4 linked regions of the Homo sapiens genome follow. The protein of the gene in region 4 purifies or fractionates together with the protein of the main gene of each other region. This does not show direct contact. Each region holds a gene or a part of one and is shown on either strand. Other genes may lie near its edges.

Region 1 (3,574 bases), about 90 Mb from region 4:
TGATTGCATGGCTTCATAGTTCCCTGTCAGCTTCTGGAGGGTGCATTTTTCCTAACTCATAGCTTATTTCTGTGAGGCATACACTATTCTTTCTTTGACTGTATTTCTGATGGTATTCTCCCACCCCAGCTCTCTTTCTACTTCCTTTCCAAATTCTGTATTTTTATTTTAGAGCCCAAGTAATGATTTACCTTTACCTAAATTTTTCTTATTAGTAATAATTTTTACCATTGTGAAGGATTTTTTTTCAACACTGATTTGGTCTTTGTTTTAATAATAAATAGTATTTTGTGTTATAAAACATTTGTTCTGTTTCAAGTATAAAAACTGACTAACATAGTTATCAAAACCGGTTTTCTATGTGGTTTCTAGAACCAGTGCAGTATATATTCTTTTCATTCCCTATGACCATGTTTTATCTCCTCAACATTTTTTAATTGGTTAATTTTTTCTAACTGTTCATTATGAATATTCTCAAACAGAAAAATTGTCAGACTAGTACAATGAACACCATTGTACCTTCTGCCTAGATTTAGTAATTAGTATTTTACCGCATTTGCTTTACCTGTCGTGTGTATATTTTTTTCTCAATCATTTGAAAATAAATTTCATATATCAAGAACTCAGTCTTTAGGCCAGGCACCATGGCCCATGCCTGTAATCCCAGCACTTTGGGAGGCTGAGGCAGGTGGATTGCTTGAGCCCAGGAGTTCAAGACCAGCCTTGGCAACATGGTGAAACCTAATCTCTACCAAAAATACAACGATTAGCCAGTCTCATAACCCGGTCTCTAAATTAATTAATTAATTAATTAAATTTTAATAATAAAACAAAAACTTGATCCTTTAATATTTTAGCATATCCATCTACTAAGAACAAGGATATATCTTTCATAAAGCTATGATACCAATGTTACACTTAAGAAAGTTAACAATAATTTTATAATATCATATAATATCTTTCTCATTTCGGTTTTAATGTATTCCAGAATAGGAAGCCTGGTGTCTGTTTTGATATATTACGCAACACTTATTGTGGTGTTGGCATTCACTAGCCACTTAAAAATGTTTGATTCAATGGAGTATTTTCATATAATACCTTCTATGGTAAATAAGAGTTAAACAATCTAAAACATCATCTCATAGTTCAGTGTTTTCAGATGAAGGAAATGAGATGCAGAGCTGTTCTGTGCAGAGCTGTGACTAGAGACCAGGTCTTAAGTCTCAGTGTAGTTTTCTTTTGGCATTATCAAAATTATCATTCATAATTTATGCATTGTTTAGGTATGTATTAAGTCTTAGGGCTAAATGCTAAATACTTACCAGAAGTATCTTCTGAACATTTTTCTTAATTGATACGTGCGCATATGTCGGGTTTTCAAAATTATATTCTATAAGATTATCTGATTTCTTATTTCTAGGTTGCTGTCTTAAACATTATGTTTTATAAATTGGAGATTCTTACTATATTTATAATTTTGGCAAACTAAAAATTAGTCCTTATCCATGATTATTTTCTGCCTTTACATCTATATAGTTACTGGATTACTTTGGTGATTAAGATTACATCTGTAATCTTTTCAAATTGCCATTTTTATTGATACCTTTGAGGTATGGTGACCTGGTTTTAATTATTCTTTAACATAGGCTTTTAAGTATATAAAAGTTCAAAAAATAATAATTTAACTTCTTTTTATAATTTTATTATATTTTCATTCTTTAGAAATCTAATTTACATGCATGATATGTTCAAGCTTACTTGTAAAGGAAGGATTTGCTAAATGAACTAGTAGAATAAAGATTATAAAGAGGGTTGTTTAAAGAACCTTGAAATGTCAAGCATTTAAAATGTTTTAGCAAGTATGTACAAATATGACTGTGATTGACTTTTTTGGTAACATTATCTTTTCCCCAGTTAATATTATAGAATACTAATTTGTAATGTTTATCACATTATATGTATTTTTGCATCCAAGAAGTTACATTTAATAAACATGTTCCACTTCCTAACAAAGAAGTAAAAGCAAAAAGCCATGTCTTAATGTAATAATTTTGCATAATGTAAAATTTTTTAAATACTTAGTGTAAAATGGTAGTCGTGGATTCTGAAAAAATAAAATGTTTATATTTCTGACTATTTCATTTTCTTTCTTACCACAGTAAACCAAGAGGAGTTCATTGCTATTATGACTGGTGACATTTAAAGAATTACAAGGATAAACACTAAGAATGTTGCAGTTACCATCTTATATTCTATTTTTGTGCCTGGAGCCATGTGAAAAAAACCAACTTAGTTCTTTTATCCTAAAGGACCAAAAATAAGCATCTTATATATCTGTATTTTACTACTGTTAAGTTTCTTTGTATGAACTGTGTTGTTAGTACTCAGATAGTTTAGCTTTGTATTTATAATAGAGCTTTTATATAAAGTTTTAAAAATTGAATGTGTGATATGTGTTCTTTGAAGGTTTTTTAATTTAACATTTATAGTCACTTTTTAGTGCACACATTTTCCAGACTTTCGTTAATAAAATATTTATTTTATTAGAATTTTAAAGTTTGGTAAATTTGTTTTTATTCCTAGTATCTGTTAACCCTCAAGAGTGGATTTCTTAAATCTTCCCTTTATAATTTTACTAGTTTCTGAAACAAAAATTGAAATACAATTAGCAATAGAGTGGCACATTTTTCCATTACCTAACATTTCATCAATTTTGACATTCTATATTTTAATACAAGCTGACTCAATATAAGCCTAATTCCTTTTTTAAGAGTCCTGTCTTTGAGTTTAGAAGGAATAAGTATTGTGCAGATAGACCCATTTATCCTTGTGTATTATGTTTCTTAACTTGGTATCATTGTAAGTATGAAAGTTAATTTTCTTCTGAATATTTCCTTAAACAAATTGAATGAATACAATTTGAATTTTCTAACTTCTTGACTGAGAGATTTAAATTTTGGAATTTTGATTTGTTAAGGTAATTATCACTCAATTACATGTCACAGTGATGAAAATAGAAAACTGTAAGCCACAGAAATAATTTAAGTCTATGTTTTACCTATATGAAGGAACAGTCTGTGATTCACCAGGAAATAGTAGAGACACAGTTTCCAAGTACTGGTGGGCTCTTCTGCCTTGTAGAAGTGTATGTTAGGGGGAAACAAGTGGTTATGGAGATCGATCATAGAAAAAAATAGTACCTATATGGATCCTTCACTCATATCTAGTACTCGGTGTTATGGGCTCTCCCAGGAACGGAATTGAGTTGTCTATTTCAGCAATCTTTCTTTAGAATTCTTGTTTTAAATTTTTAAGTTTAAAGTGTAGTATCATTTGAGGCGCTTTAAATGTTGTGAGCCTTTTAAGAGTATTACATTAAGGGTTGTCCACTAGAAATTTAACACAAAATCAGTAGGGAATACTATAGCAGTAGTGACATTTCAAACAGTTATCTAGGAAGCAAGTGTATATTAAGTCATTCTTGTATTGCTACGAAGAAATACCCAAGACTGCATATTTTATAAAGAAAAGAAGCTTAATTGGCTTACGGTTCTGCAGGCTTTACAGGAAGCAT
Region 2 (3,574 bases), on a different chromosome or scaffold from region 4:
AGAGGATTGGACCAGTGCCTCCACTTGATGGACACAGGAAGGCAGCCCGGAAACTTACTCAGGGACTGGAAGCTCAGATCTCAGATTAACCATCTATCATAAATAACCCAGAGTAGATAATCCATGTTCAGAGAAGTGAGTTTACTGTACAGAAATTTCAGCACTTTTGATATCTTTTCACATACTGTTCTGCAACTGGCTATCCCTGTTCTTGGATGATCTTAATGTTATTATTATAGGTTGTCAAAATCTGTCACCAGTAAATGCTTTGTTCTTCAGTTTCCAATTTGCATGGGGTGTGTGAGGAGGACTTCAGGGTATAGGCTGGCTTTTCTATCTTGATTTTTTGCCCTCTGGCCTTTGACAGTGCTTCATGCTGGGCTGTTTTTCTCCATAATTATATTTTTTAAGCCACTGTATTGAGATATGATTGACATACAAAAAGCTGTGCATACATAATAATTTAATCATATTTTAAGTGATGATTTTATCCAAAGCTTGAATGTGCAATGACCAAAATAAAGTTAAAGGAAAGGTGGGTTTGGGAAGCACAGTCACTGTATTGTCGCTCCTCTTTCAGGTCGGAGTTCAGGTTTTCACCAAGAGACCTTTGGATGAACAGCAGAAGAACAGTTTTAATCCAGACGACATTATCAATTGCCTTAAAAAATACCCTAAAGCCCTTGTGAAGTATCTGGAACATCTTGTGATAGACAAGAGACTGCAGGTGAGCACTGCAGAAGTTAGACTAAAGAGTGTGGGCTGGAGAGACGGAATTGAACTAGAACACTTTTTGGCATGTGATTCTGTGTAATGTCTGTTCCCTGGGTGATCCATCCGTACTTGTTGATGGTCTGATGGCGGCCTTGAGGCTTGCGGAAAGAGACCTGGAGCAATAGGTAGCTTTATTTTTTTCTCCGTCCGTCTCACACCCACTCAGCTTTTATTTTTCCTCTCTTTTCCTTCTTTGTTATTATCCTTAAAGGAAATAAAGGGAGCTATACCTTTTTGTAGGTTATCTAAATTCTGTGGCCCTTACTTCTTGAAATAAGAGGTGACATTTTGTTCTATTCCCCATAGATGGTAAACTCATCTCAGTATCATGGTTTCTGAGAGGGTTTCGATCCAGCAAGTGAGCATCTGCCCAGCTCATGTCAGTGCAGCCGCGGTCTCCAAGCCCTGGCTGACAGGGGAGAGCTTTGACTTTCCCACTTGAAAACACTGTCTGTCTGCTTGGCTCCCCCTGTTTCCTGCAGAAAGAAGAGTATCACACCCACTTAGCTGTGCTGTACCTGGAAGAGGTGCTGCTGCAGAGGGCCTCCGCCAGTGGCAAGGGTGCAGAGGCCACCGAGACGCAGGCCAAGCTGCGGCGGCTGCTCCAGAAATCTGATTTATACCGAGTCCACTTTCTTCTCGGTGAGGATGATCTCAGTATTGTCTCCCTTTGGAAAAAACTCATATCAAGCGGGTGGGAGGAAGCAGAGAGAAGGGCTTTGGCACAGCTGCTGGTTGATTGCACAGGGTGATTCTTTGAGCCTCTTTTTTTAAAAAGATTTTTTTAAATGAAGACAGGGTGTCGCTTTGTCACCCAGGCTGGTCTCAAACTCATGGCCTCAAGTGATCTTCCTGCTTCTGCCTCCTAAGGTGCTGGGATTATAGGCGTGAGCCACCACACTCAGCCCTTGAGCCTCTTTTGACAGAGTCAGCCTCCTTGCAGGGAGAAATAAGGCTTCTCGTGCCTCTAGAGATGGACCGTGCCTCTAGATGGACGGTGCCCTTTGATTGATGATGTTGGTGCTGCCCTGGTAGACTTTAGACGTCTGTGTGTCTCTTGACACACAGTGTCTTTATTCAATGTCAAAGCACTGAGTCATAGTTCCCTCTGACGGCTTCAGTCTCTGATCAAGGCTTTGCAGTAGGCACTGCCCCCAGCGACCCATTCCCGAGCTGCTCAAGGCTCAGGTCCCTCGAGCTCTAAGCAAGAAGGTTATGCAGGTGTCTTGGAGGGCATTTGGGTTTCTGTTCCTCAGGGGTACAGAGGCCACAGTTTCTGTATTGTGTAAAGTTCCACAGCGCAGCATGGTGCTTGCAACTGGTAGAATTAACTAGTTTCTTGCCACATTAAGAATTTCTGCATTTATACTCACTGGGGTTAGTGATGTGTTTTTCTTTAATGGCCTTTAATACCATTTTTTGACCAATAACAAAGCATATCTAACACACGTGTTGTCTCCATAAAGCACATCACAACCTTCCAGAGCTTAGGAGCGCTAGGCAGCACTTCAGCACTACACTGAAATCACCAACAAGAAGCACCAAAATGCAAAAAAGCATGGCAATAAATAGCCCGTGAAAAGGAAACGTGTAGCTAGTACGACAGCTGAAGCAAGGAAGGAGGGCGCTCCTTCTTTGGCCTCAGCTCTGCATCAGGCTCTGTGCTTGTCGTAAATGACCTTGAAGCTGCTGCGAGTGTTGATTGGGAGGTTACAAATAAATTTCAGCGAGTAGATGACTTTGTAAATACAGAATCCACAAATAATGAGGATTGACTAGATATGCCCAGCATAGGTTGAAACGCTGAGGCTGCCTTATGACACAGTTTCCACAACAACCCTGTGAAGTGAGGCCTGTTTTTCCTCCATTTTTACAGAAGAGTGCACTGAAGCCCAGAGAGGTTACCCCGCTTGCCACAGGTCACACAGCCCACGAGCAGTAGAGCCAGAACACAGGTGTGGGTTGGTATTTCATGAAACCAGCAAACACTAGTTCTGGCTTGTACCTGCACCTACATTAGGACTTTCTGTGGCGATCCGCTGTGCAATCTCTGTTCACTCACAGCCACCGTCCCTGACTGATCAGTGCCAGGGTGTCCCAGCTATTGAATTTTTACTCACTCCTGACTTATTCTTTTTGCTTTACAAATCTCCTTATAAAACTCTCAGGCCAGCCACAAGTGTGTGGTTCAATGTTTGCATTCCGCCAGCTTTTCTGAGTATGTAGAGTGTGTCACTGTGCATTGAGGATACAAAGATGGATGAGACTTGGTCCTGGTCCTCAGAGACTCAGAGTTTAATTGGAATGCAGTTAAGGGCAGGTACAGTTCTAGAAGGGCCGAGGAACCCACGAGCTGTGCCTTGGGGTGGAGGGGTCAGAGGCAGCCTCCCGGAAGAGGCCCTATATGAGCAGTCATTAGGTATAAGCCTGGGCTTGCAGGTAGCACAGGGGAGCTTTCAGGCAATGGGGGTATCCCCCGCAGCACTGTGGGAGGAGCACTGGAAATCCAAACACTGATTTTGTATCCCTTCTTAGTTAGATGACTTGGGGAAATGTCAGTCTAGGGAAGTTGTAAAAACGATTCCAGCCCAACCTATCCACTCGGGGTGGCTGTGGGAGTCAAATATAAATGAGATGATAGATGTGGAAGTGTAAATCACCACAGTGATCTTTTCTTAACTGTCTTTGTACCTCACCCAGGGTCTTAACTATGGCAGCCACTTAGTAATTATTTGTTGGCCTTCCACTGTGAGGATGAAGGCGTTGCGTATTGTGGCTTCTGTGTCTAGTGCTATAAGGG
Region 3 (3,574 bases), on a different chromosome or scaffold from region 4:
TGTCATTATAAATCTTAATAAATCATAATGACACATTCATAAGACAGAACTATGAAATGTATAGTTCAGAAAGTAACTCTTTTTTTTTTTTTTTGAGACACCGTCTCGCTCTGTTGCCCAGGATAGAGTGCACTGGCGTGATCTTGGCTCACTGCAACCTCTGCCTCCCAGGTTCGAGCAATTCTCCTGCCTCAGTCTCCCGAGTAGCTGAGATTACAGGCACCCGCCATCATGCCCAGCTAATTTTTGTATTTTTAGTAGAGATGGTGTTTTCTCACATTGGCCAGGCTGGTCTCGAACTCCTGACCTCAGGTGATCCACCTGCCTAGGCCTCCCAAAATGGTGGGATTACAGGCATGAGCCACCATGCCCAGCCCAGAAATTAACTCTTAAACTAGCATTAAAATACTCAGTGTACAAACCACATAAAACTGCATGAAATCTAAGAATTATTGTTACCAGTCTGTCAAAAGTTTTGGTAAACTTTAAAAGAAACAAAGACAGTAAAATGTCAGAAAATATGAAATACACAATATTTGTCACATCACATAGATCACTGGTAGATAAATAACTATAGTATGATATGGCCAACTAAATAATTTTAAAACTGCTAAATAATACAACTTATTCCCAGAAATAATTCCCAATTAGGTAATCACGCTTCATTAATCATAACTCCCAAGTTCACAAAAGTATGGCAAAGCTAACGCATTCATGCTCTGCTGACAGTGTAAACTCGCTCAAGTCTTTGGGGAGGCAAAAATCTGGCAACTGTAGAAACATTTATATCCTTTGACTAGTAATTCATTTGAGATTAGTATCCTATAGAAACAATTCATAAAAGAAAAAATGCACAGAGATGTTCAATTCAATGTCAAAATAGGCATAAACTGAAAACTATTATTTTCCTGTCAGGCATTTAGAACAAATTTAATACTTATTTTTCAACTATCAAGTAACAATCAAATATCATAAAGGTTATACAACATGGAAAAATACAATGCTATAAAAGTAAAATAAAACTTATTTGATATAATTCTGTAAAAACTGCAATATATATGCACAAACTAGAAGAAAACAAAAATAATGAACACAATTATTTGTTAGTATGGCAAAACAAGTTGATATATAAAAAAATTGTTCCGACACGTTTAATAAATAAAAGCAGGCTGGGTGCAGTGGCTCATGCCTGTAATCCCAGCACTTTGGGAGGCCGAGGTGGGCGGATCACAAGGTCAGAAGATCGAGACCATCCTAGCTAACACGGTGAAACCCCGTCTCTACTAAAAATATTAAAAAATTTGCCGGGCGTGGTGGTGGGTGCCTGTAGTCCCAGCTACTTGGGAGGCTGAGGCAGGAGAATGGCATGAACCTGGGAGGCGGAGCTTGCAGTGAGCCAAGATCGTGCCACTGCACTCCAGCCTGGGCAACAGAGCGAGACTCTGTCTCAAAAAATAAATAAATAAATAAATAAATAAATAAATAAATAAATAAATAAATGCAAGCAAACATACTAGCCCGAACAGTAAAATTAGAAAAACCAAAGCTATAACATTGGAGCAAAGCTAAAAAAATTAGAATGACAAAGGTTTCGGTTCTGCTAGCAAACTAAAGAATATTTAGGGAATATATTTATAAACTTATGGTCAATATTATAGATAAAAATACTATATATTACAAAAATAACCAAAGTCCATATGGTATTTTGCCAATTACAATTATTTCTCCCTGTCTTTCCCTACCAGTCTTGTTGAGAATCTCTGTGGTAATAAGCCACTACTACTGTTGGAAGTATTTTGTATTCCTTGGGTAGAAAGGCAAAAAAGTGGCTGAGAACCACTATCTTTGTTAAGATACAGAATGCAAATATGGGTGAATAGGCAAAGCCCCCAAAACATTGTTTACATCTCTTCTTTACTGTCAATGTCAAAATGCCAAGGAAAAAAAATCAATAAACATACTTAAAAAATGAAAAATGATGCTGGGTGGTGGCTCATGCCTGTAATTCCAACACTTTGGGAGGCCGAGGCAGGTTCGAGACCAGCCTGGCCAACATGGTGAAACCCCGTTTCTATTAAAAATACAAAAATTAGCCAGGTGTGGTGGCGGGCACCTGTAATCCCAGCTACTCAGGAGGCTGAGGCAGGAGAATCACTTGAACCTGGGAGGCAGAGGTTACAATGAGCTGAGAGCGGCACTGCACTCCAGCCTGGGTGACATAGCAACTCCGTCTCAAAAAAAAAAAAAAGAAAAGTGAAAATGAATACACTAGTTTCAAGGTTGCCAACAAGAATAAATTGAAAAGATATATATAATGAATACATATTTATTTATAATTATATAATATGTAACATTAAATACACCTGTAACACAATGTGTAAAAATAGGCCCGGGTGCAGTGGCTCATGCCTGTAATGCCTTAAAAGTGAAAATGAATACACCAGTTTCAAGGTTGTCAAAAAGTCTCAACAAATTGAAAAGACACATATAATGAATACATATTTATTTATATTTATATAATATGTAACATTAAATATATTTATATTATAAAATAATGTGTAAAAATAGGCCTAGTGTAGTGGCTCACGCCTGTAATCCCAACACTTTGAGAGGCCAAGGCGAGTGGATCACTCGAGGCCAGGAAGTCGAGATCAGCCTGGCCAACATGGTGAAACCCCATCTCTACTAAAAATACAAAAATCAGCAGGGAATGGTGGTGCACCCCTGTAATCCTAGTTATTCGGGAGGCTCAGACAGGAGAACCGCTTGAATCCGGGAGGTGGAGATTGCAGTGAGCCAAGACTGCACCACTGCACTCCAGCGTGGAAGCCAGAGGGAGACTCTGTCTCAAAAATAAAATAAGATAAAATACAATTACTGATGGCCTTAAAGATCCACAAATTTCCTTGATTTTCTATGAAACTATCTTATACCTTACTATATAACCTTTTAACCTTGAGAAACATAACAAAGGAAATAAAATGTTCTCTGGGGTTTTCCTTCAAATAGAAATAGGTGAATACTATCCTACTACTTCAACATTAAAACTTACATAAAGAGAACATGCAGCATTTTAGACAAGTTCTTAGCCTTGAGGAACAGGTGTGAGTATGAGATAAACACAGAAATACTAAATTAAACTCCAGATTATAACAATACTAAGTGAATTTTTTGGTTTTTGTTTTGTTTTGAGATGCAGTCTCATTCTGTTGCCCAGGCTAGAGTGCAGTGGCACGATCGGCTCTCACTGCAGCCTCCTGCTCCTAGGTGCTAGCGATTCTCCTGCCTCAGCCTCCCCAGTAGCTGGGATTGCAGGCGCCTACCAACGTGGTTTCACCATGTTGGCCAGGCTGGTCTTGAACTCCTGACCTCAGCTGATCCGCCTGCCTCAGCCTCCCAAAGTGCTGGGATTACAGGCGTGAGCTACCACACCTGGCTAAGGTGGGATTTTTTTTAGGGTACATTTTAATTATACAAAATAACCCAACAGGTGCTATATGCATTGACTTTTATAAAAATCAGTTGAATATTAATTATTGCTATTCACTGAATTTTTAACGAGAGGTTCTGATGA
Region 4 (2,467 bases):
CGCCATGCGACCCAGGACTGGAGTCACAAGATTGGGCGAGGACAAAGACCCAGCGAATGGTGAACGGCCATGCAGGATGGGGCCGATCAGTTCAGTAGGAGCAAGTGCGAGACCTGCACAGGACGGGCGAGGGAGGCGTTGGTCCCCAGCCTCTGCTGGCCTTATCAGAATGGGCTGTTCTTGGGAAGCCCCTGGGTGTCTGTGGAGCTGGAGATGTTGGGAGCTTGTGCCCTCAGCACCGCCCACTGACACCAGTGGGCTCCTGTGTGCCCTGCCCAATCCCAGGCCTCAGGACACCCAGCACCCTGGGCCCTTCTCCACTGCCACAGGCCTTAAGGTTGGTCATCATGCCGCCCAGCGGCTGAGTCTTACAATAAAAATTCAGACACAAAGCAGTGGCAGCCACTCTGTGCTTTAGAGTTAGAAGTAAGTCATTAAAAATGTTGGCCCAGCACCTTCCCTGCCTGTTTCCAAAAGCTGGCCGCAATATCAAATTCATGTCCCTGGACAAGGCTCCAGTAAGGCACTGCCTGCAGTGTGCAGAGAGCACTTAGGTGGTTGCAGAGCAGGCAGAGACGAATGTGGGGAGTGGAAGTCACCATATCTGCCCACTCGGCAGGAGGCCGTCCATTCCTGAGACGCCCCCGGGAGGCAGGCTCCTGTACGGCACTCATGCTGGGTACCCAACCCCTACAACCCAGGCAAACCCCTACCCTGGGCAGAGAAGGGCCTGGACACACCAGGGGCAGAAGGAGAAAGGGGATGGAGACAAACCTGGGTGGGGGTGACCTGGGGGCAGCTGGGGTGGGGTGACACGGGGACCATTGGGGTGGGGACACACTCCGGGAGGGGGAGACACGGGGCAGCAGGGGTGGGGGCACACCTGGAGTGGGGTGACATGGGGGCCCCTGGGGTGGGGACACACTCGGGGAGGGGGTGACACAGGGACCACTGGGGTGGGGACACACTCCGGGAGGGGGTGATACGGGGCAGCGGTGTAGGGAAAAGAGAGATCAGACTGTCACTGTGTCTATGTAGAAAGGGAAGACATGAGACTCCGTTTTGAAAAAGACCTGTACTTTAAATAATTGCTTTGCTGAGATGATGTTAATGTGTAGCTTTGCCCCAGCCACTTTGCCCCAACCTGGAGCTCACAAAAACATGTGTTGTATGAAATCAAGGTTTAAGGGATCTAGGGCTGTGCAGGACGTGCCTTGTTAACAAAATGTTTACAAGCAGTATGCTTGGTAAAAGTCATCGCTATTCTCTAGTCTCAATAAACCAGAGGCACAATGCACTGCGGAAAGCCGCAGGGACCTCTGCCCTTGAAAGCCGGGTATTGTCCACGGTTTCTCCCCATGTGATAGTCTGAAATATGGCCTCGTGGAATGAGAAAGACCTGACCGTCCCCCAGCCCGACACCCGTAAAGGGTCTGTGCTGACATGGGTTAGTAAAAGACGAAAGCCTCTTGCAGTTGAGAGAGAGAAGTCCACTGTCTCCTGCTCGCCGCTGGGAACTGAATGTCGCGGTGTAAAACCCGATTGTACATTTGTTCAACTCTGAGACAGGAGAAAAGCCGCCTTGTGGCGGGAGGCGAGACATGTTTGCGGCAATGCTGCCTTGTTATTCTTTACTCTGCTGAGATGTTTGGGTGGAGAGAAACATAAATCTGGCCTACGTGCACGTCCAGGCATAGTACCTTCCCTTGAACTTAATTACGACATAGATTCTTTTGCTCACACGTTTTTGCTGACCTCCTCCTTATTATCACCCTGCTCTCCTACTACATTCCTTTTTGCTGAAATAATGAAAATAATAATAAAAACTGAGGGAACTCAGAGGCCGGTGCCAGTGCAGGTCCTTGGTATGCTGAGCGCCGGTCCCCTGGGCCCACTGTTGTTTCTCTATACTTTGTGTCTTACTTCTTTTCTCAGTCTCTCGTCCCACCCAACTAGAAATACCCACAGGTGTGGAGGGGCAGGCCACCCCTTCACAGCGGGGGTGGGGACACACCTGGAGTGGGGTGACATGGGGGCCCCTGGGGTGGGGACACACCTGGAGTGGGGTGACATGGGGGCCCCTGGGGTGGGGACACACTCGGGGGGGGGTGACACAGGGGCCATTGGGGTGAGGACACACTCCGGGAGGGGGTGACACAGGGCAGCAGGGGTGGGGGCACACCTGGGGAGGGGGTGACACGGGGCCCCCTGGGGTGGGGACACACTCGGGGTGACATGGGGGCCCCCGGGTTGGGGACACACTCGGGGAGGGGGTGACACCTGAGGAGGGGATGACATGGGGCCCCTGGGGTGGGGACACACCCGTGGTGGGCGCTGTCATGAGGTGTGACTTTTGAGCGGAGCCATGGACACACAGTGACTCAGATCCCTGGTTTTGGGTCTGAGAACGACTTAACCACACCAAGCACTGACCTGTCTGAACTGCACTGAAAGACGCATTTTATTT

What was found.
Region 1: the proteins of CCDC127 (region 4) and CETN3 purify together in Homo sapiens (co-immunoprecipitation; 2 studies listed by BioGRID and IntAct, with this or other methods). This does not show direct contact.
Region 2: the proteins of CCDC127 (region 4) and TGFBRAP1 purify together in Homo sapiens (co-immunoprecipitation; one large-scale study listed by IntAct). This does not show direct contact.
Region 3: the proteins of CCDC127 (region 4) and ATF2 purify together in Homo sapiens (co-immunoprecipitation; one large-scale study listed by IntAct). This does not show direct contact.

The regions. Positions count from the first base shown.
Region 1 is NC_000005.10:90,392,693-90,396,266, reverse strand, and holds part of CETN3 (centrin-3), read left to right. Parts: intron 1-2,159; coding exon 2,160-2,203; 3' UTR 2,204-3,574. UniProt on the Homo sapiens protein: Plays a fundamental role in microtubule-organizing center structure and function. As a component of the TREX-2 complex, involved in the export of mRNAs to the cytoplasm through the nuclear pores.
Region 2 is NC_000002.12:105,270,697-105,274,270, reverse strand, and holds part of TGFBRAP1 (transforming growth factor-beta receptor-associated protein 1), read left to right. Parts: intron 1-580; coding exon 581-727; intron 728-1,256; coding exon 1,257-1,416; intron 1,417-3,574. UniProt on the Homo sapiens protein: Plays a role in the TGF-beta/activin signaling pathway. It associates with inactive heteromeric TGF-beta and activin receptor complexes, mainly through the type II receptor, and is released upon activation of signaling.
Region 3 is NC_000002.12:175,161,685-175,165,258, forward strand, and holds part of ATF2 (cyclic AMP-dependent transcription factor ATF-2), read right to left. Parts: intron 1-3,574. UniProt on the Homo sapiens protein: Transcriptional activator which regulates the transcription of various genes, including those involved in anti-apoptosis, cell growth, and DNA damage response.
Region 4 is NC_000005.10:196,311-198,777, reverse strand, and holds the end of CCDC127 (coiled-coil domain-containing protein 127), read left to right. Parts: 3' UTR 1-1,910; downstream 1,911-2,467.